Linked DNA regions of Homo sapiens. The protein of the gene in region 2 interacts with the protein of the main gene of each other region in a biochemical or structural test. Each region holds a gene or a part of one and is shown on either strand. Other genes may lie near its edges. The genes, in order: BICD2 and NEK9.

What was found.
Region 1: of the proteins of NEK9 (region 2) and BICD2, one has a biochemical effect on the other in vitro, tested with the Homo sapiens proteins (one study listed by BioGRID).

What each region holds. Positions count from the first base shown.
Region 1 is NC_000009.12:92,716,030-92,719,845, reverse strand, and holds part of BICD2 (protein bicaudal D homolog 2), read left to right. Parts: intron 1-263; coding exon 264-1,307; intron 1,308-1,897; coding exon 1,898-2,049; intron 2,050-3,816. UniProt on the Homo sapiens protein: Acts as an adapter protein linking the dynein motor complex to various cargos and converts dynein from a non-processive to a highly processive motor in the presence of dynactin.
Region 2 is NC_000014.9:75,116,912-75,120,727, reverse strand, and holds part of NEK9 (serine/threonine-protein kinase Nek9), read left to right. Parts: intron 1-147; coding exon 148-218; intron 219-1,792; coding exon 1,793-1,898; intron 1,899-3,401; coding exon 3,402-3,533; intron 3,534-3,816.

The DNA.
Region 1 (3,816 bases), on a different chromosome or scaffold from region 2:
TGTAGCATGGTTGGGGAAAGAGCCTGCGTTGAGGGTGACCACCATTACTGGTGACGGTTAGTGTTCTGAGGGCCCAGCATGAATTCCATTCTTTCCACACCCTGTGTGTCTTTGTCCACCTCACTGACAGCATGGCCAAGGAACCTGGGGCTGACAGCCTGCCCTGACATGGGGTGGGATGTCACTAGGCCATCTTGGGGGTCCTCCAAGCTCTCGGGGTCCATAGCAACTGACATGGTGTCCTGCTGCCTGTGCCTTTGCAGATGGAGCGGGAAAAGGCGGGCCTGCTGGCAACGCTGCAGGACACACAGAAGCAGCTGGAGCACACGCGGGGCTCCCTGTCAGAACAGCAGGAGAAGGTGACCCGCCTCACAGAGAATCTGAGTGCCCTGCGGCGCCTGCAGGCCAGCAAGGAGCGGCAGACAGCCCTGGACAACGAGAAGGACCGTGACAGCCATGAGGATGGGGACTACTACGAGGTGGACATCAACGGGCCTGAGATCTTGGCCTGCAAGTACCATGTGGCTGTGGCTGAGGCTGGCGAGCTCCGCGAGCAGCTCAAGGCACTGCGCAGCACGCACGAGGCTCGTGAGGCCCAGCACGCCGAGGAGAAGGGCCGCTATGAGGCTGAGGGCCAGGCACTCACGGAGAAGGTCTCCCTGCTAGAGAAGGCCAGCCGCCAGGACCGCGAGCTGCTGGCCCGGCTGGAGAAGGAGCTAAAGAAGGTGAGCGACGTCGCCGGCGAGACACAGGGCAGCCTGAGTGTGGCCCAGGATGAGCTGGTGACCTTCAGTGAGGAGCTGGCCAATCTCTACCACCACGTGTGCATGTGCAACAATGAGACACCCAACCGTGTCATGCTGGACTACTACCGCGAGGGCCAGGGCGGGGCCGGCCGCACCAGTCCCGGGGGCCGCACCAGCCCCGAGGCGCGTGGCCGGCGCTCACCCATCCTCCTACCCAAGGGGCTGCTGGCTCCTGAGGCGGGCCGAGCAGATGGTGGGACGGGGGACAGCAGCCCCTCGCCTGGCTCCTCACTGCCATCACCCCTGAGTGACCCACGCCGGGAGCCCATGAACATCTACAACCTGATCGCTATCATCCGTGACCAGATCAAGCACCTGCAGGCAGCCGTGGACCGCACCACGGAGCTGTCACGCCAGCGCATTGCCTCTCAGGAGCTGGGCCCCGCCGTGGACAAGGACAAGGAAGCGCTTATGGAGGAGATCCTCAAGCTGAAGTCGCTGCTCAGCACCAAGCGGGAGCAGATCACCACGCTGCGCACTGTGCTCAAGGCCAACAAGCAGGTGAGGTGCCAGGCAGCAGGGGCACATGTCACCTACTACTGGCCTAAGGGTGTTTCCCCCTTGGCCTCCTTCCTCCCCCTGCCACGGGGCCCCCCCAGGCCTGCGTCACCACCAGACAGAGCCAGCCCCATAGTAGCTCGACTGCCTACCCTCCCCTGCTCAGGGCCCCCAGCTGGGAGGGTGGAGCAGGCAGGTGGGTGTGAGGGCCCCTCAGCAGAGCTGCTCAGCCAGTGAGAAATGCCGCTGCCCTTGACTCACTGTGACTGCCTCGTAGTGCTTCCTGATACTGGAGGGAAAACATGTGAGAGCCATAGTCTGAGCTGTGGAGAGCAATTGTGGGGCTTCGTGGAGGTCCTGTTGGCAGGTTTAGGGGCAGTCCCTCCTCTGCCAGTCAGAATCAGCAGGTGGGACTCCCCATGGCGTAGCTGCTGGAGTCCATCCCCAGGGTTTGTCACAGGGAGGGGCCTCCCAGGAGCTTTCTTCCCAGGCACTGCCACCACTTCAGACCGGGGCTCCCGATCCTGCTCCCAGAGCACCTCTAGGCTGACTTCACGCCTTTCACTTTTCCACCCTACACATCTGTCCCCCAGACGGCCGAGGTGGCCCTTGCCAACCTGAAGAGCAAGTATGAGAATGAGAAGGCCATGGTTACCGAGACCATGATGAAGCTGCGCAATGAGCTCAAGGCCCTCAAGGAGGACGCAGCCACCTTCTCCTCGCTGCGTGCTATGTTTGCCACCAGGTAACCGTGCTGCTGTCGGGCCCTCCCCTTCCACAAGGCCAGCTGTCCTCAGCACTTGCCTCTGGAACCCTTAGCCTCTCACTGCCTCATGCTGAGGCCTGCAGCCCTGACTAGTCAGTGGCTGTGCCCAGCTCCATCAGGGCCAGCATGGTACGAGGTTGGGGAAGCATGGCCCCTGGCACATCTCTGGCACACTGGTGCTCAAGTTGGTGACAAGAAAGGGTGAGGCGATATGGGGGCCACATGGGGTTGGGGGCCCCTAGCTGCTGCACCTCAGCTTCCTCCGAGGTCACGCAAGCAGTTGCTGGAGCATAGGGCATGCCTGGCAGGTGCCCACATGTGGCCGGGGATAGCAGAGCGTGTGTGATCCTTTTAATGTTCCTTTTGCACCTAGCCCAGCCCCCAGGAGCCTGGTTCTGTGGCGCCGGTTCCATTTTGCTGTGAATGAAACCGCAGCAGGCCCAGGCTTGTCTCTGCTTTGCATATATGGAGACTGAGGGCAGAAGGGCTGAGGAGAGCAGATCCTGGAGTGGATGGGCCAGAGTTGCATAGCTTCAGGGGATGCTTGGGCTCCCACCCCTTGAATCCAACATTTACAGGGACTTAACTTGGGGCCAACAGGTGACAGAGGAGTCCTGGCCTTTCCTCTCATGAGGTATTTGCCCCCAAGAACTTGGCCATATGGCACAAGTGTGTATTTATGTTTGTAGATTCAGAAGGAAGATTATCCTCCTGGCTGGAGCAGGTCACTGCTGGGGTCCACAGTTCGGGTCCCACCTCTGTGCATAGCCCTGTACCTCTGCGTCATTGTGACCGCTGGGTACTCACCTCCCATCCTCTACTTTGCCAATCTGGGGAGGGTGAGGAGAGGGCCGGGGCTTGGAGGAGACCAGCTTTCTTTCTTCCTCTGTGGAGGGCTCTTAGTAATGGGCTCTGAGGTGGGCTGCCCCTGGTGGGTGCACACCCCTCCCTGGCTGGGACTCAGACCCCAAGGCTGGGAATCGAGGCTCCCTAAGTGTTCACAGGCCTCTGTGGGGCAGGTCCTGGTTTCAGCATCTTCCCAGGTGCCCCCTGACAGGTACCGCTGTCTTTCACTTTCCAAAGATGGGTAGCGCCACCTGCTGGGTCATGTTGGGATAGCACCATGGGGTCAGCCCTGCATGGGGGACAGCCAGGCCCACCATGGGCCCAGCAGATAACCTAGATGTTTCCTTTTTATGGGTGAGCAAGCTGAGGATCTGAGCTGGACAGGGTGGGAACTGCATGCACATAGGGCCTGCTTCTCTCAAGCCTGGTGCCGTGCACTCCCAGTTTCTCAGTATCCCTGCAGGACGTGCCAGAGCAGGGTACAGACAAGGAAGAGTCCCAGGATTTCTCTGGAAGCGTCCTGTCTTCCTGGGGCTTGGGGAAAAAATCCCACAGTTTCTCAGTATCTGGCATGTAAACCCTACCTTTTAAAATTTGTTTTATTTAAAAACTTTTCAGATGGAGCCAAGATTTTGAATCTGCAGGGATCACAGCTCTGTGTGCCCTCAAAAGGGTGGGCAGCAGAGTCCTTGGAGAGGGTGCTATCCAAGGGCCGGCTCCTGGCAGGTGGGGACAGGCAGAGTAGGGTGCGTGTGGGCAGGGTGGGGCTGTGCTCAGTGCCTGCACAGCCTCACCGCCCTGGGAGCCCTGGGATTTAACCCGCCCTTTGTCTCTACCAAGCCCCACCCATATGGGACATGTGGAAGAAGGGCATCCAGGGACAGACCACACCCTCCCACA
Region 2 (3,816 bases):
TACTCAACCTGCAAGGAAGAGATGTCAAGTCATGTTGAATCATAACTTCTGGTTGCAGTTTTCTTTGTTTTGTTTGTTTATGTGTGTGTGTATTTACTTAAATGGAGCTTTTTGTTTCTAATCCAAATATTTATTTTTTCTCTGCAGATGGTGGTGTGGTACCTATTTCAGATTGTTTCAGCAGTGAGCTGCATCCATAAAGCTGGAATCCTTCATAGGTAAGAAGTAAAAAAAATTATGGATGGATTCTTCCCTACCAATTCAGCCCCTACCGTGGATACCCCCCCAACAACACTTTTATTTTCTTGGTTAAGCAGCCAAGAGTTTTTCCATTGATATCACTAGGAAAGGAAAGTAATGAGCAATATTATTTTCACTCCCTGAGGTTAAACCATGTTTATGATCTAGGAAGAGTCTCCTCAGTAGCCAAGTACTACTGAAGTCATTTTACAGACAAAAATTTTAGAGTTCAGTTTGTTAATTCATCAGTAAAGCCTAGAAGGGCACTATGAGAAGTAGTATTTGGTAAGAATTCACAGCAATAATAATTGGCAATTCTTTTTAATTCTATAATTAAGATCTTTTAATTTAAATAAAAGCCTCTTCACTCTGTATATTTACTTGTACAAATTTACCAGATCTTTAAAAACAAGCATGATTGCATTCATTTCTAGCTATAGAAGAGAAGCATCTCAATAACATTTTCACATCATTATGCCCTTCTTAAGTGAGTCATTGACTGGTGCCAGAGATTAATTATAATACACTAAGATTTCTTTTTTTATTGGTTTGTTCATTCAGTTAACATGTATTTCTTGATAGCTATTAAATGGCTTCTGTTGCATGTTGTTATTTTCTTTTTAAAAGTAACAAAGTATATTGTTCTGGTTTATTCGCATCTTTCAATAAAGGAAGACATAGTGAACCAGGCACAGTTATTTTGTTTTACATATGGTCAATTTATCTTTAGAAAAATAGCCTGTGATTTTATTTAGATGACTAAATGGCCTAATCATATCATTGCAGGGACATGTAGGCCTCTTCTCTTGCCTTAACAGATTATTTGAAACTTTGACACCAACCAAGTTTGTTAAAGTTGCCTTGATATCACTTAATTCAAGGCATAAGTGATAGTTGAAGAGGTGTGGTATCTTATGGGAATTATGGTTACCTAGAGCACCATTTTCCTCATCTGACCGTCTCAACTTTTCCTAATAGCTTCAGTAGTATGGGAGATATTTCTATGCTGTGAAGCCCTAGAGGATGAAGTTAATTCTCTGCCTTCACTCCTTTAAAGTCCCCACTTCAGTGTTAAATAGCATGTGAAAGTGATGACCACTGTGGGATGTTTAGGATATCCTAAATGAATGAGCAATGGTAACACTCTTTTTTTGTTTTATTTTGTTTTAGTTTTTGAGACAGGGTCTCACCCTGTTGCCCAGGCTGGAATGTAGTGGTGCAATCATGACTCACTGCAGCCTCAGCCTCCTGGGCTCAACTGATTCTCGGTGCTTTAACCTCCCGAGAAGCTAGGACTACAAGTGTATGCCACCACTCCTGACTAATTTATTTTTTGTAGAGATGGGGTCTCACCATGTTGCCCAGGCTGGTGAAGAACTCCTGGCCTCAAGCAGTACTCCTGCCTTGCCCTCCCAAAGTGCTGAGATTACAGATGTGAGCCACTGTACCCGGCCCACACTCATTTTTATTCTGTAATAATCCTGGGCAAGGCGGGGGATGAAATAAAACAATTATCTGTGTGAACTTAATTTGCAGCATCTTTTTTTTTCAGAGATATAAAGACATTAAATATTTTTCTGACCAAGGCAAACCTGATAAAACTTGGAGATTATGGCCTAGCAAAGAAACTTAATTCTGAGTATTCCATGGCTGAGACGGTATGTGTTGCCCTTGTCTTAATTTTTATTTTATTTTCTAGCACTGTGAAATATAACTGTACTCCCTAAATCTTGCATACTTTTCTCAATATTCTTGCAAGTTCTCCATACTTTTAATGCATGTCTTCAGAAGTCTTTTTCCTGGGCCCACTAGCAGGCATTTAAGTCATTGCCCACGTTACAGCTCTGACCTCATAGCCTTTTTCCAGCACTGATTAGGGACTTATCTAAAAGCAGCAAAATGCTTTACTGTTTTGTCCAGGTTAGGATCTTTAGTAGATTTCACTTTATCTCTTATTTAATGTTTGAGCTCAAGGTGTTAGACATCTCTTTGTTTTTCCTTTGAATGCTTCTGGTTCAAAGAGAACCCTATATTTCAAGTGAAGGCTGATGCTCAGAGAACAATCCATTCTTTAATATTATACACAGTCTGAACTGCACAGGGGTCCCTTCTCACATGATTTTGAGAAAGATCATTGGTAAAGAGTAGACATAAGTTGATCTTTAGGACAGTAATCTTATCCTTTTAGGAATTATAAAACCCAGTTGTTATTCTTCTAGTTTCACAATGCTCTGTCCTTAAAAGAAATTGAAAACTGATTTTGGCCAATAATTTTTTTTTTAATAATGTCAAGGTTTGCCTGCAAGCAATTTAGATGTTTAGGGTTTGGAGTCTCTGCTTCAGGGACTCAGATGTTTCTATGATGGAGGCCAAAGTGAGCTTCTGAAGAAGCAATCATATCTTTATATGGATTTTTCTCATCAAGAACAATCTGATAAAACCAAGACTTGACTTTTTTTAGCTAGTTAAATGCAAAGAAGGAATGATATGAAAATTTATAAAAGCCATGTAAGCCATCTGAAATTTGCTTTGCTTTGCTGCTTAAAGCTGACTATGAATTTTATTAGAGCTGCTAGGGCATTCATTATATCTCATCTTGGGAGAGGCATGACTTCTTAGGACATTTTTATTTCCAAATTTATTTTTGAAGTCAGAAAATCTTTTTCAAATTCAAAGGAAATTCGCTAGCTGTGTTAGTATAACAGATGCCAAATTGGGCATTTTAAAAGTTTCATTGCGCGTATTTTAGTTAGAACATCTAATTCCTTCATTGAGTTACCATCTCCCCACTGCCAGTGTTTGGATTTTTTTCCCATTGGTGAACTTCTACTAAGTATGTCTTTAAGTTTGTGTAAAGTCTTCAGTAGGCCTTGAATGCCTGAAGCCTCTGTGATCTAGGAATCACAGAGCTATTGAGCCCCTCAAGTTACCACAGTTCCTTTGTCACAGAGATTGTCCCTTTATAATTGACCCAAGAGGTTTGATATGAATAAGATTTCTTTCCATAGTGGCATCGTCTCATAAAAACCATTTTGGAATCTGCTGATGAATGTTTTATGGTTGTTATGACTAGTTCCTAGGAAATTTAATTAAGCTGTTGAAATGTTAACATAGTTACCTCAGAAAAGAAGTTATTCTTTGATTGTTTCTTTGTTGCTCAGCTTGTGGGAACCCCATATTACATGTCTCCAGAGCTCTGTCAAGGAGTAAAGTACAATTTCAAGTCTGATATCTGGGCAGTTGGCTGCGTCATTTTTGAACTGCTTACCTTAAAGAGGACGTTTGATGCTACAGTAAGTTGGCATATTATCCCCATATTGCATTTAGCAGGTTGCAAATGGTACAGCTTGACTAAGCAGATCAACTCTATTCCCAGGCTTCTGATTTCTGGCAAAAATAACCTGTATTCAGGTACAAGATTAGTAATCTATTACTAAAATGCTATAGACCCAGCCAGGCGCAGTGGCTCACGCCTGTAATCCCAGCATTTTGGGAGGCCGAGGTGGGTGGATCACTTGAGGTCACCCCGGCCAACATGGTGAAACCCCGTCTCCATTAGAAATACAAAACTCAGCC